Linked DNA regions of Homo sapiens. The protein of the gene in region 1 purifies or fractionates together with the protein of each later gene. This does not show direct contact. Each region holds a gene or a part of one and is shown in the gene's direction. Other genes may lie near its edges.

Evidence for each region.
Region 2: the proteins of TXNDC15 (region 1) and SLC25A16 purify together in Homo sapiens (affinity purification with mass spectrometry, with the first as the bait; one large-scale study listed by BioGRID). This does not show direct contact.
Region 3: the proteins of TXNDC15 (region 1) and SLC7A3 purify together in Homo sapiens (affinity purification with mass spectrometry; 3 studies listed by BioGRID and IntAct, with this or other methods). This does not show direct contact.
Region 4: the proteins of TXNDC15 (region 1) and AGPAT5 purify together in Homo sapiens (affinity purification with mass spectrometry, with the first as the bait; one large-scale study listed by BioGRID). This does not show direct contact.
Region 5: the proteins of TXNDC15 (region 1) and GPR89B purify together in Homo sapiens (affinity purification with mass spectrometry, with the first as the bait; 2 studies listed by BioGRID). This does not show direct contact.
Region 6: the proteins of TXNDC15 (region 1) and PON2 purify together in Homo sapiens (affinity purification with mass spectrometry; 3 studies listed by BioGRID and IntAct, with this or other methods). This does not show direct contact.
Region 7: the proteins of TXNDC15 (region 1) and ATP2B3 purify together in Homo sapiens (affinity purification with mass spectrometry; 3 studies listed by BioGRID and IntAct, with this or other methods). This does not show direct contact.

What each region holds. Positions count from the first base shown.
Region 1 is NC_000005.10:134,883,892-134,888,415, forward strand, and holds part of TXNDC15 (thioredoxin domain-containing protein 15 isoform 1 precursor), read left to right. Parts: intron 1-3,803; coding exon 3,804-4,291; intron 4,292-4,524. UniProt on the Homo sapiens protein: Acts as a positive regulator of ciliary hedgehog signaling. Involved in ciliogenesis.
Region 2 is NC_000010.11:68,524,724-68,529,013, reverse strand, and holds the start of SLC25A16 (solute carrier family 25 member 16), read left to right. Parts: upstream 1-1,490; 5' UTR 1,491-1,638; coding exon 1,639-1,768; intron 1,769-4,290. UniProt on the Homo sapiens protein: May be involved in the transport of coenzyme A in the mitochondrial matrix. Very little is known about the physiological function of this carrier.
Region 3 is NC_000023.11:70,924,406-70,928,447, reverse strand, and holds the end of SLC7A3 (cationic amino acid transporter 3), read left to right. Parts: intron 1-190; coding exon 191-303; intron 304-427; coding exon 428-650; intron 651-824; coding exon 825-964; intron 965-1,063; coding exon 1,064-1,166; intron 1,167-1,406; coding exon 1,407-1,573; intron 1,574-1,754; coding exon 1,755-1,921; intron 1,922-2,269; coding exon 2,270-2,378; intron 2,379-2,504; coding exon 2,505-2,635; 3' UTR 2,636-2,869; downstream 2,870-4,042. UniProt on the Homo sapiens protein: Uniporter that mediates the uptake of cationic L-amino acids such as L-arginine, L-lysine and L-ornithine. The transport is sodium ions- and pH-independent, moderately trans-stimulated and is mediated by passive diffusion.
Region 4 is NC_000008.11:6,711,255-6,715,778, forward strand, and holds part of AGPAT5 (1-acyl-sn-glycerol-3-phosphate acyltransferase epsilon), read left to right. Parts: intron 1-4,524. UniProt on the Homo sapiens protein: Converts 1-acyl-sn-glycerol-3-phosphate (lysophosphatidic acid or LPA) into 1,2-diacyl-sn-glycerol-3-phosphate (phosphatidic acid or PA) by incorporating an acyl moiety at the sn-2 position of the glycerol backbone.
Region 5 is NC_000001.11:147,986,916-147,991,275, forward strand, and holds part of GPR89B (Golgi pH regulator B), read left to right. Parts: intron 1-1,516; coding exon 1,517-1,606; intron 1,607-4,360. UniProt on the Homo sapiens protein: Voltage-gated channel that enables the transfer of anions such as iodide, chloride, bromide and fluoride which may function in counter-ion conductance and participates in Golgi acidification.
Region 6 is NC_000007.14:95,413,848-95,418,371, reverse strand, and holds part of PON2 (serum paraoxonase/arylesterase 2), read left to right. Parts: exon of another isoform or gene 1-56; intron 57-2,074; coding exon 2,075-2,130; exon of another isoform or gene 2,131-2,183; coding exon of another isoform or gene 2,184-2,200; intron 2,201-4,524. UniProt on the Homo sapiens protein: Capable of hydrolyzing lactones and a number of aromatic carboxylic acid esters. Has antioxidant activity. Is not associated with high density lipoprotein.
Region 7 is NC_000023.11:153,551,807-153,556,330, forward strand, and holds part of ATP2B3 (plasma membrane calcium-transporting ATPase 3), read left to right. Parts: intron 1-1,228; coding exon 1,229-1,463; intron 1,464-4,242; coding exon 4,243-4,422; intron 4,423-4,524. UniProt on the Homo sapiens protein: ATP-driven Ca(2+) ion pump involved in the maintenance of basal intracellular Ca(2+) levels at the presynaptic terminals. Uses ATP as an energy source to transport cytosolic Ca(2+) ions across the plasma membrane to the extracellular compartment.

The sequences.
Region 1 (4,524 bases):
CAATAAAGGGAGACTCCATCTCAAAAAAAAAAAAAAAGGAAAGAAAGCCAGGCGCGGTGGCTCATGCCTGCAATCCCAGCATTTTGGGATGCCGAGGCGGGAGGATCACCCGAGGTCAGGAGTTCGAGACCAGCCTGGCCAACATGGCGAAACCTCATCTCTACTAAAAAATACAAAAATTAGTCAGGTGTGGTGGCAGGCACCTATAATCCCAGCTACTTGGGAGGCTGAGGCAGGAGAATTGCTTGAACCCGGGAGGTGGAGGCTGCAGTGAGCTGAGATTGTGCCACTGCACTCCAACCTGGACGATAGAGCAAGACTCAGTTTCAAAAAAAAAAAAAAAAAGGGTACAATTTGATCTTTTTTTTTTTCCCGAGACAGAGTTTTGCTCTTGTTGCCCAGGCTGGAGTGCAATGGCACTATCTCGGCTCACCACAACCTCTGCCTCCTAAGTTCAAGCGATTCTCCTGCCTCAGCCTCCCAAAAAGCTGGGATTACAAGCATGCGCCACCACGCCAGGCTAATTTTGTATTTTTAGTAGAGATGGGGTTTCTCCATGTTGGTCAGGCTGGTCTCGAACTCCCGACCTCAGGTGATCTACCCGCCTCAGCCTCCCAAAGTGCTGAGATTACAGGTGTGAGCCACCGAGCCCGGCCAATTTGATTGTTTTTATTTTTATTTAGTTATTTTTTTGAGACAGGGTCTCACTCTTTCGCCCAGGCTGGAGTGCAATGGCTTGATCTTGGCTCACTGCAACCTCTGCCTCCCAGGTCGATTTGATATTTTTAATATCTTATATCTTGATATCTACTTTACTTTTTGAATGCAATACAGTTACAATTATTGTTTTAATATCCTTGTCTGCTAATTGTGACATGGGTGCAAGTTCTGGGTCAGTGTGGCTTGATTGATTATTCTCATTATGTGTCCTATTTTCCTGCTTCCTTATATGTCTGATAATTTTTTACTGGATGCCAGACATGAATTTTACTTTGTTGAATGCTGGATATTTTAGATTCCCTATACATATTCTTTTTTTTTTTTTTTCTGAGACGGATTTCTCTCTTGTTGCCCAGGCTGGAGTGCAGTGGCATGATCTCGGCTCATTGCAACCTCCACCTCCTGGGTTCAAGTGATTCTCCTGCCTCAGCCTACCGAGTAGCTAAAATTACAGGTGCCCGCCACCATGCATGGCTAATTTTTATATTTTAATAGAGACAGGGTTTCACCATGTTGGTCAGGCTGGTCTCAAACTTCTGACCTCAGGTGATCCACCCACCTCGGCCTTCCAAATTGCTGGGATTACAGGCGTGAGCCACTGCACCTGGCCCCGTATATATATTCTTGAGCTTTGTTCTGGGGTACAGTGAAGTTACTTGAGAACAGCTTGATTCTTTCAGGTTTTGCTTTTAAGCAAGCAAGCTGTTATTTTCTTTAGGGTTAATAGTGTCCCACTACTGACGCAGGTCCTTTTGTATACTCTACTCAATACCCTGTGAATTATGAAGTTTTTCAGTCTAGCTGGTAAGAAGAGGTACCATTCCCTGCTCTGTGTGAATGTTGGGTACTGTTCCTTCCCATCCTTTCTGGTAGTTCTTTCTCTGGCACTGGGTAGTTTACTCACATGCATGTGATGACCCGTACCCTGCTGTATACTTGGGGGGGCCTCTGCAGATCTCTGGAGTCCCCTCTCTAGATAGCTCCTCTCATCTGCAGTATTCTGTCTTGCAAACTATGGCTTCTTGGTCTCCTTGGACTCTTAGCTCCATCTCCTCAACTGGGAGAGTCTGCTGGGCTCTGCCTGGATTTCCCCTCCCTGAGCCACAGTGGGAACGCCATCAAGGCAGTAAGTTGGAGCAGTTGTAGGGTTCTCTTCATTTGTCGCCTGTTTCTCGGATGTCACTATCCTCTGTTGCCTCATAACTGATTTCCTGAAACTGTTGTTTTATATATATTATCTATTTGGTTGTTTCAGTAGGTAAGGTAAATCTGGTTCTTGTTACTCCATCTTGGCCAGAAGCAGAATTCCCAGATAATGTTTTTGAATCTCTGAATGAATCCACAGAGCTCTATGCCCTAGTGTGAGGTAGATCAGTAGGGTAACTGTAGTTCATAATAGCCTATTGTATATTTTAAAATAGCTAGAAGAGAAGAATTTGAATGATTCTAGCATGAAGAAAAGACAAATATTTAAGGTGATGGATATCCCAAATACATTGATCTGATCTTTACAAATTGCATGAATATATTGATTATCACATGTGCTTTGTGATTATCACATGTACATCTGTTATGCATCAGCAACAACAAAAAGCTCTACAGGGATATTCTTTGAAATCTTATACAAATGTGCATACCTGAGGAAGCCCCCAGACCTTCCCAACTTTGAAGTCAGTTGGTCACTGACACTCCAGTGACATGCTGTTGGCACGCAGAACTCATCACCCAGCGGGTGGTTTCTTAACCACATGGTGAGCTTTCGTGAGGGCTGCTGGCCTCACTGGTTTCTGCTGGTTGGTGCCTGGCACAAAGTCTGGCAGCTGGTGTTGAGTTGATGAGTTGGAGGGCAGGAGGCATTGCTATGGAGGTGAGTGGAGTTGGGTAAATAGATGTACGAGACTACCTGGGACTCTTCCCTTATCTGAGCATTATGCTCAAGACCCACCTTCTAGCTCCAAAGTGGGGGAAAGTTCTCTTCTTCCTCCTGCTGCTGCCTCTGCACTGCCGAGCCCATCTCCCAGCACTCCCAAGGGCAGCAGCCCAAGGGTGGCAGGCAGGAGAGCAGAGTCCAGCTGTCAGAGGCCACCTCAGGAAGGAGCTGCTGTGTGGCTTGAACAGTGTTCTTCAGGCAGTGTGGCTCAGCATCCCCGAGGTATCATGGCAGGGAGCCTACGGCTCGTTCTGGAGTAGCAGCCAGAAAACTTTGCTCGCAGACTTGGCTTTGCTGCTTACTATCTGTGTACCATCGGACACTGTGCTGAGCCTCTCTGTGCCTTGCCTCGTTACCTGTTCAGTGGTCTTGGTAACCCTTGTCTTGCCCATCTCACAGGACTGTTATAATGTGTGCAAAGATGCTTTGTTCTAGTAGAATCTTGCATAAAACCATGATCCTTTTCTTGGATATTATCAAACAAATGAAACTCTTATCAAAAAATGAAAGTGTTTATATTCTATTTTCCTAATGAGATATCTGAACTGGAATGTTTTTGGTTATAATCCACATGGCAAGCAGCAAGTTTAGGGCAGAGCTGTGTGTTTGTCTATTATTTGACATTCATTATTTTGTTTGCTTGTTTGTTTGTTTGTTTTTTGAGACGGAGTCTTGCTCTGTCGCCCAGACTGGAGTGCAGTGGCGCAGTCTTGGCTCACTGCAACCTCCGCCTCCTAGGTTCCAGCAATCCTCTTGCCTCAGCCTCCCTAGTAGCTGGGATTACAGGTGCCTGCCACCATGCCCGGCTAATTTTTATATTTTTAATAGAGACAGGGTTTCACCATGTTGGCCAGGCTAGTCTTGAACTCCTGACCTCAAGTGATCCACCTGACTTGGGGCCTCCCAAGGTGCTAGAATTACAGGTGTGAACCACCATGCCCGGCCTTCTTTGACATTCATTAATTTATTAATAGTACCTGCTTGTGACCTTCTTCCTAACCTGGGAAATGGTGAGTAGCTCTCTGATAGTTTAATGAAAGGAGACCTTTTTGTCTCCAGAGGGGAAAATTTCGTGTTAGAGGGGAACTGTAATTCTTTGGGGTTCATTTGTTTTGAAGTCAAATATGACTCTGAATGTGCTGGCATGTTTTAGTTGCAGAGGAAAGTGGTCGCTTATGGTCAGAGGAGCAGCCTGCTCACCCTCTCCAGGTGGGGGCTGTGTACCTGGGTGAGGAGGAGCTCCTGCATGACCCGATGGGCCAGGACAGGGCAGCAGAAGAGGCCAATGCGGTGCTGGGGCTGGACACCCAAGGCGATCACATGGTGATGCTGTCTGTGATTCCTGGGGAAGCTGAGGACAAAGTGAGTTCAGAGCCTAGCGGCGTCACCTGTGGTGCTGGAGGAGCGGAGGACTCAAGGTGCAACGTCCGAGAGAGCCTTTTCTCTCTGGATGGCGCTGGAGCACACTTCCCTGACAGAGAAGAGGAGTATTACACAGAGCCAGAAGTGGCGGAATCTGACGCAGCCCCGACAGAGGACTCCAATAACACTGAAAGTCTGAAATCCCCAAAGGTGAACTGTGAGGAGAGAAACATTACAGGATTAGAAAATTTCACTCTGAAAATTTTAAATATGTCACAGGTAAGGAAAAATTATTTAGTGCTTTTCTCCTTTTCAGTACATTTATTTTATGATTAATACCCTATCAACTTTGAAATGGAAAATCATGATCTTGATCATATTGTAAGCGAGATAGCATTTAATGGCTGCTTCAGTGAAAATCAACTTTGCCCTCTGTGATGTTTATAGGGAGACGAGGAAATATAACTAGTGTTGATTATGCTTTTCAGATGGCCTAAACCTAGTTATCCTTG
Region 2 (4,290 bases), on another chromosome or scaffold:
GCAGGCGGATCGCGAGGTCAGGAGATGGAGACCATCCTGGCTAACACGGTGAAACCCCGTCTCTACTAAAAATACAAAAAATTAGCCGGGCGTGGTGGTGGGCGCCTGTAGTCCCAGCCACTCAGGAGGCTGAGGCAGGAGAATGGCGTGAACCCGGGAGGCAGAGCTTGCAGTGAGCCGAGATCAGGCCAGTGCACTCCAGCCTGGGCGACACAGCGAGACTCCGTCTCAAAAAAAAAAAAAAAAAAAAAAAAGAAAGGCTGCATCTTAGGGAGGTCAGAATACAGCTCCGAGAGCAGGGCGCAGAGGCTCACGCCTGCAATTCCAGCACTTTGGGAGGCCGAGGAGGGCGGATCCGATGAGGTCAGCAGTTCGGACCAGCCTTGACCAATACGTTGGAAACCCCGTCTCTACTAAAAATACAAAAAGTAACCAGGGGTAGTATTGCACGCCTATAATCCCACCTACTAGGGAGGCTGAGGCAGGAGAATTGCTTGAACCCAGGGGGTGGAGGTTGCAGTGAGCAGAGATCTCGCCACTGCACTCCAGCCTGGGCAACAGAACGAGACTCCGTCTCAAAAAAAAAAAAAAAAAAAGCGCGATAGGCGATTACTGGTCAGTGGTCAATATAGGTCAAGGGACGAGACAGGAGAGAGCTTTCTAAGGTTGTGGGCCTTTTTATTTTTTATTTTTTTGAGGCGTAGTCTCGCTGTGTCGCCCAGGCTGGAGTGCAATGGTGCGATCTAGGCTCACTGCAATCTCCGCCTCCTGGGTTCAACCAATTCTCCTGCCTCAGCCTCCCCAGTAGCTGGGATTACAGGCGCCCGCCCTCACGCCTGGCTAATTTTTTGTATTTTTAGTAGAGACGGGGTTTCACCATGTTCGCCTGGCTAGTCTTTTTTTTTTTTAGACGGAGTCTCACTCTGTCACCCAGGCTAGAGTGCAGTGGCGCTATCTCAGCTCACTGCAACCTCTGCCTCCTGGATTCAAGTGATTCTCCTACTTCAGCCTCTCGAGTAGCTGGGACTACAGGTGCCCGCCACCCCGCCCGGCTAATTTCTGTATTTTTAGTAGAGACGGGGTTTCACCATATTGGCCAGGCTGGTCTCGAACTCCTGACTTTGTGATCCGCCCGCCTCAGCCTCCCAAAGGGCTGGGATTATAGGCGTGAGCCACGGCGCCCGGCATCCAGGCTAGTCTTGAACTCCTGACCTCAAGTGATCCGTCCGCCTGGGCCTCCCAAAGTGCTGGGATTACAGGCGTGAGCCACCGCGCCCGGCCAGGTTGTGGGTTTTAATGGGACCATCTCACTGCCTACCGTTTCCTTTTTCCGTCCGAACAGAAGGGGCCTGAGCAGTGAACTGACAGTGGCAACGCCGGGTGAGGCGGGATGGAGGAGTTTACGAGCCTGGGTGACGCCCTGTTCCGCGTCCTGGCCCCGCCCCTCCCGGCAGAGCCCCTTGGCGCGTGACACAGGCCCCGCCCTTGCTGTACGCCATCAGCCGGCGCCGCGCCGCCGGGTGTTACTTTGCCCCGCCGGCGGGGCGGTCAGCCTCCTGTCACCGCCTGTTCCGGCTATGGTCCCGTCCGGTGTTCTGTAAGTTGGCAACCTAGGCTCCTGACGCGACCCTGGTCCTGATGGCGGCGGCGACGGCCGCGGCAGCCCTGGCGGCGGCCGATCCCCCTCCCGCAATGCCGCAGGCGGCAGGGGCCGGAGGGCCCACAACCCGCAGAGACTTCTACTGGCTGCGCTCCTTTCTGGCCGGAGGTGGGTCCATGCCACGAAGAGCCAGCCGCGCTCTGAGTGGCGGGGGCAGGACTGTGGGCAAGTGGGATGCAAGCGGCCTCTATGACATTCCTGGACTCTGGCTGCTTCAATGTTCTGTTAGATGTCTGCCCTGACCTGCTGTAACCTCTTTCTAGTAATCACTTGACTAATGACAGCTAGGTTATGGGGAGTGGGACCTTTGGCACTCCGGCAGAGGCTGGGGAGGTGGAAGGTCTGAATCAGGCACCCATTCTTCAGGGCTGGATAACAGGGAAAAGAGGAGGATCCCTTACAGAGACCCTGGGGTTTTAGTGAGACATGCTGGGCACTCCTTTCTTTTATAAAAACCGTGAGTGACCCAGTGTAGACTTGGATTTTGCTGTTTGCTTAAAGGAAAACAAATATTGGAGATCAGCTTTTTAATGACTACTGGAAAATTGTGCAAACTGTCTACAGCCAAAACTGGTTCCAGTGATTCTAGTAAACTGTGACACAGTACTTGACAAGCCCTATTATTGATGTGACTTTGGGATCAAAAAGTTCATATTGTCTCTTAGGAATTTCCTGGGCCTTCAAGCTCCACCCTTCCTTAATTACTTCTCTGGGTTGTGTAGGGGTGGGTTGCCCCTCCACACCTGTGGGTGTTTCTCGTAAGGTGGAACGAGAGACTTAGGAAAGAAAAAGACACAGAGACAAAGTATAGAGACAGAAATAAGGGGACCCGGGGAACCAGCGTTCAGCATATGGAGGATCCCGCCAGCCTCTGAGTTCCCTTAGTATTTATTGATCATTTGTGGGTGTTTCTCGAAGAGGGGGATGTGTCAGGGTCACAAGACAATTGTGGGGAGAGGGTCAGCAGACAAACACGTGAACAAAGGTCTTTGCGTCATAGACAATGTAAAGGATTAAGTGCTGTGCTCTTAGATATGCATACACATAAACATCTCAATGCTTTACAAAGCAGTATTGCTGCCCGCAGGTCCCACCTCCAGCCCTAAGGCGGTTTTTCCCTATCTCAGTAGATGGAGCATACAATCGCGTTTTATACCGAGACATTCCATTGCCCAGGGACAGGCAGGAGACAGATGCCTTCCTCTTGTCTCAACTGCAAGAGGCATGCCTTCCTCTTATACTAATCCTCCTCAGCACAGACCCTTTACGGGTGTCGGGCTGGGGGACGTTCAGGTCTTTCCCTTCCCACGAGGCCGTATTTCAGACTATCACATGGGGAGAAACCTTGGACAATACCTGGCTTTCCTAGGCAGAGGTCCCTGCGGCCTTCCGCAGTTTTTGTGTCCCTGGGTACTTGAGATTAGGGAGTGGTGATGACTCTTAAGGAGCATGCTGCCTTCAAGCATCTGTTTAACAAAGCACATCTTGCACCGCCCTTAATCCATTCAACTCTGTGACACAGCACATGTTTCAGAGAGCACGGGGTTGGGGGTAAGGTTATAGATTAACAGAATCTCAAGGCAGAAGAATTTTTCTTAGTACAGAACAAAATGGAGTCTCCTATGTCTACTTCTTTCTACACAGACACAGTAACAATCTGATCTCTCTTGCTTTTCCCCACAGGTTGTCATTACTTAATTATTTAAGATTCAAAAATTTAAAAATTCCACATTGAAGTTGTGTGCAGTGGCTCACTACTGTAGTCCCAGTTACTAGGGAAGCTGAGGCAGGAAGACTGCTTGAGTCCAGGAGATCGAGGCTCCAGTAAGCCATGATCACACCACTACCCTCCAGCCTGAGCTACAGAGAGAGACCCTCTCCTAAAAGAAGAAAAAAACAAAAACAAACAATAAAAATTCGCTGGGCAGGGTGGCTCACGCCTGTAATCCCAGCACTTTGGGAGACTAAGGTGGGCAGATCACTTGAAGTCAGGAGTTTGAGACCAGCCTGGCCAACATGGTGAAACCCTGTCTCTACTAAAACTACAAAAATTTGTCAGGCGTGGTGGCACTCGCCTGTAATCCCAGCTACTCAGGAGGCTTAAGGCAGGAGAGTCGCCTAAATCACTGTGGAGGTTGCAGTGAGCCGAGATCCTGCCATTGCACTCCAGTCTGGGTGACAGAGACACTCCATCTCAAAAACAAAATAAAATAAAACAAAAAAAACCTCACATTATGAGGATTTGTAGAAAGATAATATCTGAAGACTGCAGCAGTATTAAGTTTTTTTTGTTGTTGTTGTTGTTTTGAGACAGAGTCTCACTCCCTCACCCAGGCAGGAGTGCAGTGGCGTGATCTTGGCTCACTGCAACCTCTGCTTCCTGGGTTCAAGTGATTCTGCTGACCCAGCTTCCCAAGTAGCTGGGATTACAGGGGAATGCCACCATGCCTGGCTAATTTTTTTTCTTTTTCTTTTTTGAGATGGAGTCTCACTCTGTCGGCCAGGCTGGAGTGCAGCGGCACGATCTCTGCTCACTGCAACCTCCGTATCCGGGTTCAAGTGATTTACCTGCTTCTGCCTCCCAAGTAGCTGGGATTACAGGCGTGCACCACCATGCCCAGTTAATTTTT
Region 3 (4,042 bases), on another chromosome or scaffold:
GTCACTCTTAGGAGCTGCAGAGCTGGGAAAATGAAGGGGAAGAAGGGGATCTGCTGAAGGATTCTGGATGGGGATGGGAAAAAATGGGAGGCTGGGCTTTGAAGACCTAGCTAACTGGTTTGGCATTAGAGAAAAGATACAGAGTTGGCTGAACACACCCTTACCTTCTCCAACCCTTCTTCCACTCTAGCTTGGGTCCTCTGGGCTCTGGAGGATTTGTGCCTTTCGGCTTCGAGGGAATTCTCCGTGGAGCAGCGACCTGTTTCTATGCATTTGTTGGTTTCGACTGTATTGCTACCACTGGTAACACAGTCATTCCATTCTGTTTGGGGCTTGGGCACAGTGTGTGCCCAGGCTGTATGCAGACTGGGGGTGGTAGAGGAGTGGGCCTGCTTCCCTAATTTAGAACCTTACGCCCTTCCTTCAGGAGAAGAAGCCCAGAATCCCCAGCGTTCCATCCCGATGGGCATTGTGATCTCACTGTCTGTCTGCTTTTTGGCGTATTTTGCTGTCTCTTCTGCACTCACCCTGATGATGCCTTACTACCAGCTTCAGCCTGAGAGCCCTTTGCCTGAGGCATTTCTCTACATTGGATGGGCTCCTGCCCGCTATGTTGTGGCTGTTGGCTCCCTCTGTGCTCTTTCTACCAGGTCAGTATCAAATGTTTGTTTTCTTCTGCTGTCAGAGTCTCAGGTTATAGCATTCAGTACCAGAGAATACCCCTTAAAAGGGCTGTGAGGGGAAAGTGGAGACTCTTTAAACATACAGTCTTGGGAAGAGAGATCCCAGTCAACTCATGCCACCCTGGGCATTCTCCTCTCCAGCCTCCTGGGCTCCATGTTCCCCATGCCTCGGGTGATCTACGCGATGGCAGAGGATGGCCTCCTGTTCCGTGTACTTGCTCGGATCCACACCGGCACACGCACCCCAATCATAGCCACCGTGGTCTCTGGCATTATTGCAGGTAACAGACCCTCTTTCCCCTTCCCTTAGTTGTTTCGCCAACTTCTTTAACTTTGCCACTCCCTTCTCTCATTTCTTGTTTCCTGCCTATTAATTTTAGCATTCATGGCATTCCTCTTCAAACTCACTGATCTTGTGGACCTCATGTCAATTGGGACCCTGCTTGCTTACTCCCTGGTGTCGATTTGTGTTCTCATCCTCAGGTGAGACTCTTCCTCTGCATACTGTGATTTGGATTTTTATTCTTGGATGAGGAATGATGGAGATCTGCTCCTCTTTCCTCCTTCGCCTTCATTATTCCAACTTTCTTTGAGGAATCTGGGTATCTCACCCTGCCAAAAAGAACTTCCCTTAATGGTGATGAGGAAGGTTAAGCTGCCTGGGAGAAGATGATAAAGTGAGTAAAGGTTGTTCTTAATACTGCCATCTTACTTTTGCCTCAGGTATCAACCTGATCAGGAGACAAAGACTGGGGAAGAAGTGGAGTTGCAGGAGGAGGCAATAACTACTGAATCAGAGAAGTTGACCCTATGGGGACTATTTTTCCCACTCAACTCCATCCCCACTCCACTCTCTGGCCAAATTGTCTATGTTTGTTCCTCATTGCTTGGTGAGCAGTGGAATTTTTCTGGGGTGGCTCTGAGATCAGCGTGATTGGGTCGAAGTGTGTGGCATTTGGTGGCTGAGGAAGAACTAGAGAGAGAGCGACTCTCCTTGGAACAGGGTTTCTAATGTCTTAGCATGTTGGTCTTAAGAGTTGGTTTTGATGTCTCTCAACTTGACCTTTGAAGCTGTCCTGCTGACTGCTCTTTGCCTGGTGCTGGCCCAGTGGTCAGTTCCATTGCTTTCTGGAGACCTGCTGTGGACTGCAGTGGTTGTGCTGCTCCTGCTGCTCATTATTGGGATCATTGTGGTCATCTGGAGACAGCCACAGAGTTCCACTCCCCTTCACTTTAAGGTAAATGAACTCTGTCTTTTTTCCTTGCCAGCCCATCTTGGGAGAATAGGCTCCAGATATCTTGAGGTCTAATAAAGTTCATAGATATTCTTTAATTGAACATGAAAGGGAAGATATAGGAGGTACCTAGGCCAAAGACTTCTTCTCTGACCCTCTTTAGTTCCTTTCCAGTTCCATTTACCCAAACTGCATATTCTTGGAGTCTCATGAGGTATGCTAAATGAGCAGCTACTGAAATGCAGAGGACAAGTAAGAGTTGGACTCACCCTTTTCTGGCCTGCATAGGATAGGGATCTCTTTCTAGGTCAACCTGTGGTATGTACAAAGAAGATTTTACTTTGTTTTCAGGTGCCTGCTTTGCCTCTCCTCCCACTAATGAGCATCTTTGTGAATATTTACCTTATGATGCAGATGACAGCTGGTACCTGGGCCCGATTTGGGGTCTGGATGCTGATTGGTAGGTATCCACTTGGGAAGAGTAGGCTTCTTTGGTGTCCTAGCCCAGCTCCTTTCCCTCTTGGTCTCAAGTAGGAAACCTATGAAGCCTTTACACCCCCACCTCACAGCTACCTTTCCCCACTAGGCTTTGCTATCTACTTCGGCTATGGGATCCAGCACAGCCTGGAAGAGATTAAGAGTAACCAACCCTCACGCAAGTCTAGAGCCAAAACTGTAGACCTTGATCCCGGCACTCTCTATGTCCACTCAGTTTGACATCGTCACACCTAAATGCTGTCTGGTCCCCTGCACAATAATGGAGAGTACTCCTGACCCCAGTGACAGCTAGCCCTCCCCTGTGATGGTGGTGGTGGATACTAATACAGTTCTGTACGATGTGAAGGATGTGTCTTTGCTATTTCTTGTCTATTTTAACCCGTCTGCTTCTAAATGATGTCTAGCTGCTTACCAACTTTAAAAAATGATATTAAAAGAAAGTAGAAAAATAAACTGTGTCCTGTTTTTTGCTTGCTAAAGATGTAGAGCCTGACTTTTAAGAGTGAAGAGCCTCAGAGAAGTGTCCTTTGTGTTTTCTTCAGTTACCACAAAAGCATCTGCTGTGCCTGTGGGTGCTTCTTGTTGAATCAGGGTTTGAGGAGGGTGGTGTAAGTAGGTAGCCATCCAGTCCAGTCACACTTAAAGGAATGGTCTTGAGATATGTTTTCCCCTCATTACACTTAAGGTTAGGTTCTGGATAAGTAGACAGCAACACTTGTCTCTGGGATTTGGGGTGGACTCTGATAGCAACACTGACATTGGTTAGGGCCTACACTGAAACTATTGGCTTCTGTTCCACCTCTTCTAGTTGGACCAGTCCCACACTCCTGTAACTGCCTGAGCATCAGAAATTTTGGCTGCGGTGTTTGGCACTGCTGGGAGGAGGGGTGGATAGTCAGGGGGTTTGGTAAGGGACCACATATATTAATATATGGATACTGTTTGCTGCAGAAGTAGTAGGAAAATAGAGGTCAGAGCTCTGCTCAGAACGAGAACTATTCATTCATCCATTTATTCAACAAACATAGGTGAAGCTCCTATAAAACGTTAGGTCCTGTGGTGGGTGCTGGGGATACAAATGTGAATAAAACATAATCCCCACCCTTAAGGAACTCACAATCTTGTGGAGGAGACAAGCAGGTAAATATGACTACAAAACAGTGTGATTTGTACCAGGGCAGTGCAGAGTGCTGTGGAAGCACAAAGAAGGACATGCTTGAACTGAGTCTGCAGTAGATGCTTAAGAAGTGGACTGAGGGAAGGGCTTGGCTGTCAGTGTACAGTGTGCAAGAAACCACGGAAGTATGAAAAAACATTCAAATTGTGTTTGGGGTGTGGCATACAGTTTAATGTAGCTGGAGGGTAGCACATATGCAGCTGTGGTAAAAGATAAAAGGCTGTATACATGGCCTTGTATACTAAGGAATTTAGATGTTATAAGTGTGTGTGCAGAGAAAAAGAAGTGGGAAGGCCAGGTGCGGTGGCTCACGCCTGTAATCCCAACACTGGGAGGCTGAGGTGGCCGGATCGCTTGAGCTCAGGAGTTGCAGGCCAACCTGGGCAATATAGTGAGACCCTGTTTCTACAAAAAAATAGAAAAAATTAGCTGGACGTGGTGGTGCACAT
Region 4 (4,524 bases), on another chromosome or scaffold:
CCTGCTTCCAACAAATTTAGTTGGATTTTTCTTGGATTCTGGGTAAATACCTTTTTCTTCCCCAATTTCACTACTTTATTTTCATATGTATCTCTGAGATAGAGAAATATTTCAGTCAGTGCTGCTAAAATTGTTCCTTATAACTCGTTTATCCTTTTAGGTCCTTCCAGAATCTCTCATTGGTACTGAAACTCAAATGGGTACTTTCTTCACCATTTATTTCTTTAGAATAAGTAATAAGAATTTTATAAGCTTTTTTATATTTCACGTAATTTGAGACTATTGAAAATCCAGTTAAGTCTCTCTACTGTGTTGAGAGGCATTGATTCAAGTACCTGTGTTACTTTCCTGTGCTGCCAAAACAGATCACCTCAAACTAAGCGGCTTAAAATAATAGAACTTAAGTTCTCGTGATTCTGGAGGCCAGCACTTTGAAATCAAGGTGTAGGCTCAATTTTACTCCCTCTGGAGGCCCTAGGGGGAATCCGTTCTTGTGGGTTTCAACTTCTGGTGACTGGTGGCATTCCTTGGCTTGGGGCCCCATCACTTTAACCTCTGCCTTACAGTCCTTGCTGCCACCTCTTCTGTCTCACATCTCACTCTCCCTTTCTCTTAGAAGGATGCTTGTCATTGGGTTTAGAGCCCACCTGGATATTCCGGGATGATCTCTTCATCTCAAGATCCTTAATTATAACTGCAAAGAGCCTTTTTCCAAATAAGAAAACATTCACAGGTTCCAGGGCTTAGGATGTGGACACATTTTTTGAGGGGCTGCCCTTCATTCCCCCACAACAATGAACTCCATAGTTCTGCCTATTCAGTATTTTGTAGTTATTTCGTAGTTTAACTTGCCTTATTTCTTTAGGTATTTACGTATTAAAGCATTTTGGTCTCTGCTTTCTTTAACAGAGAACCTGGTTTTCTGTAATAAGTTTACTTACTTTCCCATAATCTTTTAGTTTCTTATTTACAGATTTACCTTCACATATCCCTTAAGTAGAACATTTGATTAACTGTTTTATTTTCGGAACAAATCTGCATTCTGTATAATAACCAACTTATTCATATTTCGGTATTCTTTTAATTCTTATCTGATTCTGAAATTACCATCTTGTGATTATATATATATATATATGGAAATAACTGAAATCCTGATAAATTAAAGGTGATATAACTTCTAAGACAATTAATTATGTATGATGTGGTGAATATACTGGTGTTTGGTTTGTTTGCCACTTAAAAGCCCTATCTATAGGATAGGAAGTAACTTGAATGTGGAATGCTTAGAGACTCAGAGTAAGAGGCCGTATATATATCCTTGAGCTGGAGTTTAAGGAAAACTTATGGGAAATTAAAAGGAAAGTTGGAGTACTGACAGAGGATTGGGTAGGACTCATGAAAAAGGAATGAAGTTACCTTAAATTCTATCATCGTGAGTTAACGTGAAACTAGATTTATGTTAGTTTATAGCCTAGAATTCTATCCTAGGAATCTAGATATATCCTAAATGTTGAGATAGCTGCATAAACAATAACTGTAATCGTTATGATAAATAATGACAAATCTTTTTAGCATGTTCTGTGAAGCTGATAAATGTTAATAGGATGTCTTCAAATGTCAGAATTCTTTTTTCTTTGCTTCTTTTTTAAAAAATTTCTTTTCCCCCATTCCTATGCAATACACTGAAAACTGATCATTGAAATTTGTAGGCCAAAAAATTAATCAACACGTAATAGATTGGGGTTTGGGTTTTTTTGAGTCAGGGTCTTCTTCTGTCACCCAGGCTCTGGTGCGGTGGCACCATCATTGCTCATTGCAGCCTTGAATGCCTGGGTTCAAGTGATCCTCCGGAGTAGCTGCCGTGCCATTATTTCTAGCTAATTTTTAAAAGTTTTTGTAGAAATGGGGTCTTTCTGTGTTGCCCAGGCTGGTCTTGAATTCCTGGCCTCAGGTGATCCTTCTGCCTTGGCCTCCCAAAGTGCTGGGATTACAGGTGTGAGCCACCATGCCTAGCCCCTAATAAATATTCTAATTACCGATTTATCTTGCTTAAATCAGTTGGTAACACTTGGAATTTACTTCAGAATATATTTTACATTAGTGGCTCTGACTGCTAATTCCCCCTTCTCCAAATGCTAATGTAATATAACAATAAAATGCACAGTTCTTAAGTTTATATAAAATAAACAGGTTTTCAGTTGACCTGCTTTAAGTGTAAAATAGTGTGAAAAACACAAGAAAGAAGATAAAGAATTTAAGATTTTGACATTTCTCTAATATGCCCTTAACTTCTCCAAGGATTCATACTTTTTTTTGTAAGACAGAATCTCACACTGTTGCCCAAACCAGAGGTGCAGTGGTGCAGTCTCCACTCACTGCAACCTCTGCCCCCGGGCTCAAGCGGTCCTCCCACCTCAGCCTCCTGAGTAGCTGGGACTACAGGTACACAGCACCATGCCCAGCTAATTTTTTTTTTGGTATTTTTTAGTGGGGGTAGAGACGAGATTTTGCCATATTGCCCAGTCTGGTTTTGAGCTCCTGGGCTCAAGTGATCCGTCCTTGATCCACCATGCTTAGCTGATTCATACTCTTAACTGAAACATTGTTCCAAGTTTCTCAGAAACAGTCAAGGCTTTTTATCTAGAGAACATTTATAACTGGATCTTTCTTTGTGTAGCACTGATTCATCAAACTAATCCTAAACTCCTAATGAGTTAAATTTATATTCTGAATCTTGCTGTAAAAGCAGCCATTCATTAGAATGAAACATGTTTACTTAGAATTGGAGAAGGGAGCTTATAAGTCATCTAGTCTACTCCCTTTTATGACACTTCTACATTCTTTCTGCACTTCTGCCAAAATGTTGCCCAGCGTCGTCTCTGATACCTATAGTCCTAACAAGAATATGAATCATACCTTGTATCCTTAATTTTACTCTTCTCTGCTTATTTGCCATTCATGTGAAGACCTTAAATAGATCTTAAATTGCTTCCTTCACTTTAGCTGAGAGTGACAGGACTGTGTAGGTGTGGGTGTGTTTCTGCATTTGCTTATTTAAGCAGGATAATAAAAACTTTTACTATAGGAAATTAAACATTTCCCAATCAAATACAATTCCAGTCTAACACAATTAAATTCTGGTTAGGGAACTGCTTAACTTACTAGACTTATAGGAAAATACTAAAAAAATGTAACTAGAACTCTATTTTTACACTTTATAAATATAAACCTCTGTGAACAAACCAGTTATTTCAGGTTGCATTTGTGTATAGTTTTTTAATGCCTGATTTTTCTATTTTAAAATCACAGATGCAATTATACATTCAAACACTGCCACAATACTTTGAGAAAGTTAAAGTTTCCCCTACTCCTACACTGCGTACACCTTTCCTAGGTACATCCCAGTTTGGTGTGTAACTTTAGATTTCTTCCAAGAGCTTTTGAGTAAGTGTTTGAATTGTGGGAAGGTTCTTTAGTTAAATGAACTTCTTACAGATCAGTTTTTTAGTACAGTAGCACGAAATATACCTGCATACCTATGGGGATACCTCTGTGCCATTACGATGGAAGGCACGGGAAAACAGCACTCCGTATATACCTAGTTTACTTTCCCTCTTTTGTATATTTGTCTGATTTTGTGGAGCTGATGCTTCTCAAGTGGAATCAGAAGTTAACTTTTCCTTTACTATTTTCTCATTTTATTATGGTTTCTTAACTAGAGGTTGATGTTAGTGGTTGGACCATTCAATAGTAAGTAATGACTTTTCAGTAAGGGATCTCTAGAACCCAGATCCCTTAATTCCTGCAATATTCCCGTGTGTACATTGTTCCAGGTGCTGTCCTGGGTACCAAGGGGTACAATGTTTGATAGACAATGTACCTGCCATTATGGAGGTCACATTCTAGTGTGGGAAGACAAACAATAACAAGAAAATGAAAATTTACTGTGCCATGCCAGGTTGTTTAGCCTGGTGGGTGAGAGGTAGGGGTTTGGAAAATCTTACTGAGCAAGTGACATTTGTGTGGAGCTCTGTAAAAGGGCCAGCTTGGAAGGTAATGTAGTCATCCAGGTGAGAAATGATGGTTAGGGGAGTGGAAAGAGTGGATGTTAAGATTGAAAAGAATTCCAAATCTATTTTAGTGGTAGCTGATAGGGCTTTGTGATTGAATGTGGAGGAAAAAGAAGAGGGTGGGTTAGTAACACACTCAGTCGCAGTTAGTGAGTGCTGCTGTGTGCAAGTATTGTTCTATTATGTAAATAATTCCATCTTTACAAAGTAGGCACCATTCTTCCTCTTTTACAGACAAGGAAAAGGGAACACCCATGGTTCACATCTGTAGTAGCCTAGCCAGGAGTTTCAGGCACTTATTTTCTGAAGATGCTCTGCCTGGCAATGTGGTTATATTGGTTGAAATGAGACCCCCTACTTTCAAGGTATTCATCTAGGAAAGACATGAACTGCCAATTACAATATAGGATAACACTGAAATTAGAGACGTGTTTATTAACTTTGCCATACAGAG
Region 5 (4,360 bases), on another chromosome or scaffold:
CAATGACTCTGGCTGAATAGCACTTTAATAGTAAGACCAATGTCATATTCTTAGTCCCAGTGTAGGCCATTTAGCTGTGCTGTCAACCTAGACGCAGACTGCGTGCTACCCCCAGCCATCCATCCCAGCCAGACGTGCCCCTAATCTCAAAAGGACTTGGATGAAATGAAAATGAACAAGAGCAAATTGAGCCCCAATCCTTGAGAAACAGCTCAATGTACATGTTTCTTGATGCTAGATCAATAGTGTATCCTCTTTGAGTGTGAAGGAACATGATATCTTTTCTTCAAGTGGTATATAAATTATATTAAGTATGCTTTACAGGCCACGCAGTACTGTGGCCCACATCTGTAGTCCCAGCACTTTGAGAGGCCGAGACAGATCACTTGAGTCCAGGAGTTCAAGACCAGCCTGGGCAACATGGTGAAAACCTGTCTCTAGAAAAAATATAAAAATTAGCTGGACATGGTGGCATGCACCTGTAGTCCCAGCTATGCAGGAGGCTAAAGCAGGAGGATCACTTGAGCCGGGGAGAAAGAAGTTGCAGTGAGCTGAGATAGTGCCACTGCACTCCACTCTGGGCGACAGAGTGAGACCCCTGTCTCAAAAAACAACAAAAAGTATGCTTTGCTGTTGTTGCATTTGTGTTTCCTTAAGTGTTTTACTGGGCTGAATTTTTAGCAATGCTTTTGCTTTTCTGTACTTTCTGAGGATACTTACATGGCCATGTATATATTTCATCTGTAATTCATCTGTTTATGCTATATTTTGTAATTCTGAATAACAAATCATTTAGATGTTAGTAATAGCAGCTCCCTTTCAGATACTTTTCAGAACTGAATCAAACACAGGGTCCCAAAACTCCTTCTCACTATGAAGCAATACAGGAGGAGAAAAAGGTATCATGTGGTTCCAGTGAAGTTCAACTATTTCCTAGAATTTAGCTGAGAATGTCTATATATTCTTTTACTATAAAAAGAAAGATTCCTTGAAGTTTTGGTGATTAGGGAACTATTATTCATAGATAGAAAATAATCAAGGTATTATTTAGTTTCCTTTTAATTCCTGCTTTTCATTTATCACAGTAAAACTGTATCATTAGTTCTGTTTTTTTCTGATTTATTAGCGTTATTTTTATCACTGCTTGGTACTTGCTGCCGGGCATGGTGACTCATGCCTGTAGTACCAACACTTTGGGAGGCTGATGTGGGAGTATTGCTTGAGCCCAGGAGTTTGAGACGAGCCTGAACTACATAGCAAGACCCTGGCTCTACAAAAAAAATATTTTTTTAATTTTAAGGTTTAATTAAGTCTGCTAATTAAGGTATTTACTGCAGTCTTTCTGTAGTTGTTTTATTTGCCACTTACTTGCTTTCCTCTCTCCCTTAAGAAAAAAAATCAGGTAGGGTCTAATAAAGCTCCCTCTCACAGTCATGTAAATGATTGGGATATAGCTTAGCCCTTACGTCTCTCTGAACAGAGATTTAGCAGATATTTTTTCTTGTTATGGTGGCAGGTGAAGTTTTGGTCCCAACACATTTCCTTCATTCTTGTTGGAATAATCATCGTCACATCCATCAGAGGATTGCTGATCACTCTTACCAAGGTATGTTTTATCACAGTGTTAAAAAGTACTGCTTATCATTTGTTTAATTAAATGTGGTACCAGCCGGGTGTGGTGGCTCACGCCTGTAATCCCAACACTTTGGAAGGCTGAGGTGGGTGGATCACGAGGTCAGGAGATCGAGTCCATCCTAGCCAACATGGTGAAACCCCATCTCTACTAAAAATACAACAAATTAGCTGGGTGTGGTGGCACATGCCTGTAGTCCCAACTACTTGGGAGGCTGAGTTAGGAGAATCACTTGAACCCAGGCAGCGGAGATTGCAGTGAGCCAAGGTCACACACTGCACTCCAGCCTGGTGAAAGAGCAACACTCCATCTCAAAAAAAAAAAAATAGGTGGTACCATGAGATAATTTTACCTCATTAAGAATTCTGCCTCCTGAGACTTTAAACAACAGTGTCAAGGATTTAAAAGACATACAACAGAATTTTTTAAAAGTTAAACTACTACATAAATTGATGATGATATATTTACATCATATACCAATTATAGATAAGTACATTCACTAAAGGTGATAGAGTAAGATATGGGTCTGTTTTGTTCACTGATATGTTATCAGTATCTAGAACAGAACCTAGCACATGGTAGGCAGATATTCAGCAGATATTTGAGACTGGAAGAATAGTTGTGAGAGTCACTTACAGAGAAGATATGGAAGTAAGGGAGCAGAATATAGCAAGTCCTTAATGTCATCAATAAGTTCTTGGAAACAGCAGCTTTAAGCAAAACTATATACCAAGTCCTCAAAAAAATGTTTCATTCAACATTTCATTATAATGCTGTGAGAAAAATGTAGTTTTGTTATACATCATTTCACTTAAAATCTCAGTTTCCAAGATCCTATAAATGGCATTAAGTAAGGACCTACTGAATTCAACTATTTTCTTTTTTTTTTTTTTTAAATTATACTTTAAGTTCTAGGGTACATGTGCACAACGTGCAGGTTTGTTACATTTGGATACATGTGCCATGTTGGTGTGCTGCACCTATTAACTTGTCATTTACATTAGGTATATCTCCTAATGCTGTCCCTCCCCCCTTCCCCCACCCCACGACAAGCCTCGGTGTGTGATGTTCCCCTTCCTGTGTCCAAGTGTTCTCATTGTTCAATTCCCACCTATGAGTGGGAATATGCAGTGTTTGGCTTTTTGTCCTTGCGATAGTTTGCTGAGAATGATGGTTTCCAGCTTCATCCATGTCCCTACAAAGGACATGAACTCATCTTTTTTTATGGCTGGATAGTATTCCATGGTGTATATGTGCCACATTTTCTTAATCCAGTCTATCATTGATGGACATTTGGGTTGGTTCCAAGTCTTTGCTATTGTGAATAGAGTATGTGAATAGTGAATAGTATGAATATTGCACACGCAATAAACATACGTGTGCATGTGTCTTTATAGCAGCATGATTTATAATCCTTTGGGTATATACCCAGTAATGGGATGACTGGGTCAAATGTTATTTCTAGTTGTAGATCCTTGAGGAATCGCCACACTGCCTTCCACAATGGTTGAACTAGTTTACAGTCCCACCAACAGTGTAAAAGTGTTGCTATTTCTCCACATCCTCTCCAGCACCTGTTGTTTCCTGACTTTTTAATGATCACCATTCTAACTGGTGTGTGATGGTATCTCATTGTGGTTTTGATTTGCATTTCTCTGATGGCCAGTGATGATCAGCATTTTTCCATGTGTCTGTTGGCTGCACATGAGAAGTGTCTGTTCATATCCTTTGCCCACTTTTTGATGGGGTTGTTTTTTTCTTGTAAATTTGTTTGAGTTCTTTGTAAATTCTGGATATTAGCCCTTTGTCAGATAAGTAGATTGCAAAAATTTTCTCCCATTCTGTAGGTTGCCTGTTCACTCTGATGGTAGTTTCTTTTGCTGTGCAGAAGCTCTTTAGTTTCATTAGATCCCATTTGTCAATTTTGGCTTTTGTTGCCATTGCTTTTGGTGTTTTAGACATGAAGTCCTTGCCCATGCCTATGTCCTGAATGTTATTGCCTAGGTTTTCTTCTAGGGTTTTTATGGTTTTACATCTAACATTTAAGTCTTTAATCCATCTTGAATTAATTTTTGTATAAGGTGTAAGGAAGGGATCCAGTTTCAGCTTTCTACATATGGCTAGCCAGTTTTCCCAGCACCATTTGTTAAATAGGGAATCCCTTCCCCATTTCTTGTTTTTGTCAGGTTTGTCAAAGAGCAGATGGTTGTAGATGTGTGGTATTATTTCTGAGGGCTCTGTTCTGTTCCATTGGTCTGTATCTCTGTTTTGGTACCAGTACCATGCTGTTTTGGTTACTGTAGCCTTGTAGTATAGCTTGAAGTCAGGTAGCGTGATGCCTCCAGCTTTGTTCTTTTGGCTTAGGATTGACTTGGCAATGCGGGCTCTTTTTGGTTCCATATGAACTTTAGAGTAGTTTTTTCCAATTCTGTGAAGAAAGTCATTGGTAGCTTGATGGGGATGGCATTGAATCTATAAATTACCTTGGGCAGTATGGCCATTTTCATGATATTGATTCTTCCTATCCATGAACATGGAATGTTCTTCCATGTGTTTGTTTCCTCTTTTATTGTGTTGAGCAGTGGTTTGTAGTTCTCCTTGAAGAGGTCCTTCACATCCCTTGTAAATTGGATTCCTAGGTATTTTATTCTCTTTGAAGCAATTGTGAATGGGCGTTCACTCATGATTTGGCTCTCTGTTTGTCTGTTATTGGTGTATAAGAATGCT
Region 6 (4,524 bases), on another chromosome or scaffold:
AGTTTGTGACCTTGAGCAATTGCTTAACTTTTCCAAAGCCTCCAATAGTCTTCACTCTAAAATAAAAGATAATCATATGAGATATTGTATGCAGGGTATTTACAAGGAGCCTGGTACTTGGTGTACCTAATGTATGTTAGTTATTATTATTAAATTAGAGGAGCAAAAATTTCTCTAGCATTGACTGCTCCTGACATAATCACACCGAAGAGGGGATACACGATGATAAAACCTTCCTGCAGTAGTGGCTATAGAAATGATGACGGGGAGAAGATCTGGAAAATATTCCAAAGAAGGCTACAGATAGATACATTTTTTCCATTGGAATTAGGCAATGGAGTTAAACAGAAGTTACAATATGGTTGAAATAAATGTATTTTTTTAAAAAAAGATTTCTCTTTCCTTAATTATTAAAAAATATACAATTTTGTAGAAAATTTTAAACAAAGTATAAAGAAAAAAATAAAAATCATTCATAATCCTATCAAAGAAGCATTGTTAATTTTTTCTATATATCTTCTTTTTCCACGTGTATACTTGGAAATTAAATTTTCTAAAATAATTTTCAGGAAAAACAAATTTTAATTAATTGAGCTTCTACTAAATAGGACTGAAAAGCAAAACCTGGACTAGAATTCTCTCTCGGTGTGTGTGTGTGTGTGTGTGTGTGTGTGTGTGTGTCTGTGTGTACATGTGTATGTGCTGTGTATACATGTGTATGTGGTGTAGCGTTCCCCTGATTCTTAACTTATTACCAGTGGACAACCACCGTGGAACTAGAGTCTAGTCATTCTTAACCTTTTTGGGGGAATCACAGTCTCTTTTTTGAATCTGATGAAAATCAAGGACCGTTTTTACAGAAACGTTCTCATCTGTGCATACATGAGACATTTTGCATTGCATAGAATTTCCGAGGGTTCACAGATACTTTGAAGCCCAAAAGTGATCCACAGACCCCAGATTGAGAACTCCTCCGCTATGCCATGCTTAAGCTTATTTCTGTGTATCTTCTTTCTGAGGAGCAGGCAGATGGGTCATCTTTACAATGTGAAGTTCTTGGCATTTTTATTTTGTTTTGTTTTTCTGCACTACGATGGAGCAAGCAACACTGGAGGCAACTGGCTAAATGCAAACTCATGAAGCAAGACCAAAATGGCTGGATAGATAGATGCTGTTTGGTTTTGACAACCTAGAAATAACCTTGAAGAAATCCTATGGAGAAGTCTTAAAGAGGAAGATTGGATTTTGTAGACTCAAAGAATGTGTCATGGTTTGGCTTAATCTAAGCCATTTTTATTCTTCTTTTCTTGTGTTTGGGTCTATTATCTGTCTGTAGAATTTATACAGTGAGACTGCTGGGGAAAGTCTTATGTCTAATTATTTGCTGTGCTGTGTGGAGTGTACTGCAGACAGTCAATAAACAATCAATAGTAATTGTAGCCTGCCTCAGAGACAGGAGTTAGAAACTTCAACTGGCTTAGGTGCATGGTATTTTTCATTAATTTTCTTCTGCTAGTTTTTTTCTCTAATTTAAAGCCTAAATTTAAAGATTAAATAGAAAAGCTTTCTTTGCTTATGAGCACAAGTAGGCACTGTTTTTAAAAGAAGGAATATATAATCCCAGGTGTTTTACCTCTGTTAATGAGAAAGATGTCTGTTTGCTTCAGATTGAATGAGCAAAGAAGAGGACAAGGATATTTGCATGGTTAAATGCCTATGAGCCCTTCCTTCAGAAAGTAATATTCCCCTGATGTCAATTACTTTTATACGGACATCTGGATGTTTATCATGAGAGTGTACAGATGTCAACTTTTTCAGTATTATAGCTGGAAATGTGGTGATAACTTGACTTTGATTTGAGTAAACATAAAATATCTAACATTTAAAGTCAGAAGTTCACTTCAGGAAGGGGTTTAAACTGACATTTATTAAAAAGAATGGTTCCTTGGAAAAAACATCAGAACCATCCCTAAAGATACAGTCACTCTGATAAAGTAAACAGAGTCCCAGTTATGCTCTGTGTAACAAATAACAGAACTTGAACATGACATTTATCTGTTCCTTAAACTTACAGAAGCTGGCTCTGAAGATATTGACATACTTCCCAATGGTCTGGCTTTTTTTAGTGTGGTGAGTGTCTTCTTCCTTCCCCAAATTCAGCAGAGGAGATACAAGGGTATTTGATGAGGGCTGCAGAACAGTAAGTTGCTTTTAAAATTCATTTTCCAAAATGCATTCTGAAGAAAAGAGAGGTCAAACAAGATCTTGGAAAACTTCCTCCAGCTTTTCTAAATGTAGAGATGAAGACTCTTTGCCCATTGAGATAGTGTTCTTTATTTCCCCATTGCATTGCACTAAAATATTCCAATGCAATCTGTGTTTTGTTTTGTTTTTTCTTTTTTAATTTTTTTTATTTTTTGAGACGGAGTCTTGTTCTGGTTGCCCCGGCTGGAGTGCAGTGGCATGATCTCAGCTTACTGCAACCTCCGCCTCCCGGGTTCAAGCAATTCTTTTGCCTCAGCCTCCCGAGTAGCTGGGATTACAGGCGCCCGCCACCATGCCCGGCTAATTTTTGTATTTTTAGTAGAGATGGGGTTTCGCCGTGTTGGCCAGGCTGGTCTCAAACACCTGACCTCAGGTGATCGCCTGCCTCAGCCTCCCAAAGTGCTGGCATTACGGGAGTGAGCCACCACGCCCAGCGCAATCTGTGTTTTAAATGTGCACTATTAAGAGGGATATTTGAGGTCTTACTGTGGATACTCAATACTAACATTATACTATTTTAAATACAGCATCTACTCATCTTTCTATTACTATTCAACTTGAAGCAAATATTCTTGCCATTATTATTTATTTTCAAATATTATACCAACCTTGCCCTTTTGCTTTCTTTCTTTTTTCCCCTGAATAGCCAATCATAAGTGGAAAGTCATTGAGTTTATTTACACCCTTCATTTTGCCTTGATTCTTGTAAGCTGAAAAACAATATCCTTTCTGGGTATACAATAGAAAGACTTTAAAAACAATTGGCTTGTGAATATTGTTGTGAATATTGTTGAAACTAGCTTGTAACAATGTCCATTCTAATTGGAAATCCAGATAAGGGGACAGATGAGGAGGTTCTGACCACCTACCTCCCTGGCTTGGGCAGACATAGGAGTTCTTGGCATCTTCATAGGTCCAGTTTTTCTGGAGGAAGAAGTAACCAACTCTGACACCTGACTGTAATTATTCCATTTCCTCTCAACATCCATTATTTTCAGGCTCTGAGACTCAAGAGGGATGTGAAATACTGGGAGATACTTAGAAGGGAGTCACCACACTAATAAAATAGTTGTTAGACTTATGAGAAAGGTGAGAGAACTCAGGTTGGAGTAGAATGAGAATTAGAACACTCTTCAGGTTCCTGATGGTTTTTATGTGAAAGACAGTGAGCAGCTGGTTATTACCACTGAGGCAATAAAGAGATACTGTGGGCTTTAGCAGAAACACCAGTATATGTATTTAGTTTTTAAAATAAGGTTTTAAAAGGAATGTTTTATTTAATTGCCTACACAGAATGAATAAAGTGATATTTATAGTAGGACTCTGGGTTTGTTTAGGAGCACATGCTTGCACATGTGTGGCTTAGGAAAAACCACTGGGACCACTAGTCTAAAATATTCATAAGTAAAGATGCAAACATTCTGAATAAAGTAGAAGGCAGTTGCATTGATTTTTTTATTTGTTTATTTGTGTTTTTTGTTGTTGTTTTGCAAGGATGTGTTCTTGGAGATTTTTATAATCTAGAATTCACCTATTTCAAGATTTCTCTCCAGCCCCCATAGTAATAAATCTGAAGTAGGAGGGATGAGGTCTCCAAACACATAAATCTACAGCCATTTTAGCTTGGGGGCATGTTATAGTTACAAAGATCTTATAGCCATATCAATAGAACTTTTTCTGCTTTTTTTCTGTTACCCTCCTTTGCTCATTTGACTTTTTTTAAAATTTAGAAACATTCCCAGTTTGCTGCTGTTTTTCATTTACTTGGCATTGTCTCTAATAAAACCTAGAGTGTACTCTCTTCTAAATAAAGAGGTCCTACATTGTGGAGGTTGTTCATTCTTCTTCCTAGCATTTTAGCTCATCTAACCCAACCTATTTTACAGTTATGGGTTGAGGGTCACCTCAAAACTAATGTCACACTTCATGAAGAATTGGATGACATAGAATAAAATATAAAAAATGTAAACAATGTGAGTGTGCTTAACACCACTGAACTGTACACTTAAAAATGGTGAAAGTGATGAATGTTGTATGTATTTTATCATAATTAAAAATAAATTTTTAAAAAGAGAAAAAATACTTAAATAAATAAGGAGTGCGAACATAACCATGACTAGTTATCACCATCTGATAGTGCTTCCTTTGCATGTAAATCATGCTTTTGTTTTGGGGACATTCATAAAGAATAGGGATTAACTGAAGTGGCACTGCCATGTAACAATAGCATAATTCCAGTTTGTTCTACTTACCAGGCTT
Region 7 (4,524 bases), on another chromosome or scaffold:
GGCTTCCCCACTCCCACTCAGCCTTCCCGGACTCCACACCCTTGGCCTTGGCGTCTCTGTCCACAAGTCACCTCGCTCCTCATGACTGCCGTCCCAGGGCCCTCAGGGCAAGGTCCTCTGCAGGACGCCCAGGGCTCCCCAAAGGCCCAGGCCCACGCTCCTTCCTGTGTTCTGCGGACTGGACCACCAAGTGCACCCTGCCTGGCCGCCCCACCCACAGCGCTCTCCCAGAACTCTGCCAGGTGCAGCGCTCACTGCCAGGGCCAGGACCACCTCCTCCCTGGAGCCATCCCTGCTGGTGTGGGGGCCTCAGCCCTCTTTCTGTGCTTCTTTTTTGGTGGGCACTGAGGGACACTGAGGCACTGCGGACAAAAGGCCCAGCCCAGCTTCACTCCCCCTTACTCCCATGCCTCAGTTTCCCTGGTGGCATGGAGATCACAGAATACTTATCTCTGGGGAGGGGTGTGAGGGTTCCGTGGGTGAATCCACATCCATAGGAGGCTCTCCGTCCACACAGCTTCTGTTATGATCATTTCCTTCGTCACCAGCCTCCCATGCAGTGGCAGCACCTGGCACTCACAGCCCCACTGGCTTCTTCCACCATGCCCGCCTCTGTGACCCTCGGCTCCTTTGCTCCCTCCTCTCCCCACCTGAATCCTCCCAAGTCCTGTCCCTTTTGAGAAGCTCCTGGAGTCATGAGCGCTCTACTGAGGCTGTGGCTGCCTGGACGTGGTTATAGCGATTGTCCACAGACTTCAGTTTTTGCCCAGGTTCCACCCGCTTGCCCTATGAAGTCTGTGGTGGAGCTGCCATGAGCCACATGCTCCTGCCTCCCTCCCGGTCTCTCAGCCTGCAGCAGTGCATGAGCGTCCTGGTGCCCTCAAGCAACAGAAATGGATTCTCCCCCAGTTCTGGAGGCCGGAAGTCCAAAAGCAGGGCGTGGGCAGGGCCGAAGCGCCTCCAAAGCATCTCAGAGAGGATGCATCCTGCATCCTCCAGCTTCTGGTGGTGGCTGCCAGTCCTCGCGTTCCTCAGCTTGCAGCTGACCCTCTCTAATCTCTGCCTGTTGTCACACGCCCTTCTCCCTGTGTGTCTGTGTTCTCACACGGGGCACTCCTCTCTGATAAGGACCCCAGTCCTTGACTAAGCCCCCAATCCAGTGTGACCAGCGCTGTTCCTTGTTGTTCTCTCCCCACCTCCACCTCATCTCTGCCCACCCCCTGCCTAGGTGCACCAACATCTTGAACAGCAATGGCGAACTCCGGGGCTTTCGGCCTCGGGACCGGGACGACATGGTGAGGAAGATCATCGAGCCGATGGCTTGCGATGGCCTCCGCACCATCTGCATCGCCTACCGGGACTTCTCTGCAGGCCAGGAGCCCGACTGGGACAACGAGAATGAGGTCGTGGGTGACCTCACCTGCATAGCTGTCGTGGGCATTGAGGACCCTGTGCGGCCCGAGGTAGCCACCACCTTCTCTGTGAGCTGCCCTGGTAACTGTGCCCTCTGCCCGAGCTTGTCCGGACTGGTAGGGGCGGCCTTCCTTCACACACAGCTGCTGCGGTCCCTCCGTAGTACACTTGAGCCCCGTCCTGGGTGCTCTCACCCTGACACCCGCACAAAGGCTCTGTCCTGCCTGCTGGAAAGCCCTTCCCGCTTGACCTATGGGCCCAGCTCAGGCTCCACCTTCTACCAGGTGAGAAGGTGGCAGTGGCGGAGAGACCGTCGACATTTGGGATCTGATCCACCCAGGACCGATGGACTGGAGGTGGTGCTGAAGCCTGAGGGGACACAGGTTTGGGGCACAGGGTGGGCGTTTATTGGTTGAGGGTTTGGCTGGGGCTACTCTACGGTCAGGACGTCCTGTGGCGAGCTCACAGCAAAGGTCCTGGCGGGAAAGGGAGCCCAGAAGCATATCCCCATATGGACGATGCCACCAGGGGAGTCCAGATGAGGGGACCTCGAGGGCCGCGTGGCAGATGCCATGGCCTTGACACTGGGAAGTCACTTTGTTGTTGAAAGATCCCAGACCCTGGAGAGTGTGGAGGATGGCCGGCCCCGGAGGGAGAATGCAAGGCATGGGGTGCCCCTCTGTCTCCCCAGGGCCTCTGCATGGCACCCACCTGTGTCACAAGCAGGGCCACTGTGACCCTGACAACTTGTCTTTGTAGGAGCCACCCTGGGGGTGCAGGTGCAACCTGGGAGGAGAAGCTTCTGGGCTCTCCTTCGGGAGACAGGCATTCATGTATTGGATCATGTAGCAAAAACACTCAATTCAAAGACAGTGCGTCTAAACGCCAGCCATGGCTCATGTCAACAGAGCAGCCCCGTGCCCCGAGGAGAACATGGTCACTGCGCCCAGAGAGGGAGCACCTCGAGCTTGCCCTGGGAGAAAATGGGTGGTAGCGGAGGACAGGGGACAGAAGTCCAGCGAGGGAAATGGGCCCCGCAAAGGCGGGCAGCGGCATGAGTCCCGGGCCCCACTGAGCCTGGGAGAGCAGAAGGAGAGGGTGCTGGTGAGGCGAAGCAAGGCCACACTTGGGGACAGGAGCCATCGAGTCCCTCTGTTGGACCAGGGAGCAACTGAAGCACAGAGCAGAGGAAGGAATCTTGCCAGAGGGGCCTGGGGAATAGGGACAGCTCCTTTCCAGCTTAAGAGTGGCTGAGAGAGAGTCCAAGGGGTAGACCACAGTGACAGGGCCAGGCTGCGGAGGCTGGGCAGACCCCCACAAAGACTGGCCAGCCTGGTGGTGGCTGAGGAGGACGCACAGAAGGCCCAGCGAAGTCCTGGGTGCCGGCAACAGGCAGTAGGACACAAGGGCCTCACTGAAACCGCCAGGGTGCTTGGAGATGCGGCACGGCTGCAGCCAGAGGAGGGCCCGTGAGGCTGGGCCCTGGGGAGCCATAGGAAGCCTGTGGCTGGGGTGGTATTGATGCTGGAGCTGGGCCGGCCGGGGGCACTGGCAACTTCTCCAGACACCTGGCTGGCTGCTGTGCTGTGGGGCCTTGGGGAGAAGGCAGGGAGCAGGGCTGAGCAGGCGAGGAAGGACAGCCTGGCCTGGCCCTTTGGGGCCATGGGGAAGGAACTGGGCTACACACACTGGGCCTGAGGAGGGAGGAGGCCTGGGTTCGCAGCTGCTGGTTTTCAGGCTCGTCACGGCCACTTGGTGGCAGCAGAGGGGTGGCTTCCAGACTTTTCAGGGACAGGCATTCGCTGGCTCAAAGGAGAATTGTCTTCTTGTGGCTCGTGATCTTGTTATCCAGCACCCCAAGATCCTCAGAGAGTACGAAGTGTCCCCGAGGCTGGCAGTGAGGCCACTTAGTGGTATATGCTGCAGGAACCATTGGATCACCCTGTCACAGCTTAGAGTGGGGCCCCCAGCTGTCTCCCTGGCAAAGATCACAGCCCCCCTGCCCATGGCCTCAGGGGGCGCCAGGATTCAGGGACTCCCAGGTCAATGTCCTCCCCTGGTGTCTCCCGGCTGCCCTACCCCTGGCTCCCACTCCTGCGTGTCTACTCCCCACCGCCGCAGGCTCCCCAGGCCTGGCGGCTCGGCCACACCTAGGCTTCTACACTTACCCGACGGTGCTCACAAGCCCCACTGCCTAGGCTTGACCTCCTCATTCAGGTTCCCAAACTCTGAACCTGGCTCCTCTTCTCCTCTCCCCCTGCCCGTCTACCTCAGTGGCATCAGCTGCCTGACCCTGTCTCTCTGTCCCCGAGCCTGAAGAGCCACATACCTCTTCATTTGGGAACTGTCTTCCCTGTCCCCCCACCACTGGGACAATGCCACCACCTCCCGGCCAGTCTCCTGGCTTCCCGCTCTCAACCCCTTGCAGGCTGTTCGCTTTCCACTCAGCACTGGGGAACCTCTTTCTCTTTCTCCAGAATCTAATGTGATGCAGGTGGTCCCCAACTTTTAACAATTTTGTAACTTGGTGCAAAGGTGATGCACATTCAGCAGAAACTTTACTTCGAGTCCCATGCTTTTCCCTTTCAGTGCAGGATTCAATGAGTTACATGAGATAATCAGCACTGTATTCCACAATAGGCTTTGTGTTCAATGCTTTTGCCCAACTGTAGGCTAACACAAGTGTTCTGAGCACGTGAATCGGATGGCTTTACTCTCACCTCTGCTGGACCTTGGGCCACCTGCAGATCTGATGGAGGAAGGGGTACTGCCTCAACCCAAAATACGTCTTGCCTCGATGGCCCCGCCCACCTCTCTTGTCTCTTCTAGGTCCCTGAAGCTATCCGAAAATGCCAGCGTGCTGGCATCACAGTCCGCATGGTGACTGGGGACAACATCAACACGGCCCGGGCCATCGCAGCCAAATGCGGCATCATCCAGCCCGGGGAGGACTTCCTGTGCCTAGAAGGGAAGGAGTTCAACCGGCGGATCCGCAATGAGAAAGGCGAGGTAGCACCCGGCTGTCTGCCACCCCAGACCCCCCTTCTCCTCACCCCAGCCCCCTGCGTGCCCGCCTTAGCTCTGCAGCGTCCTTGTGCTTCCCCTCCCCAG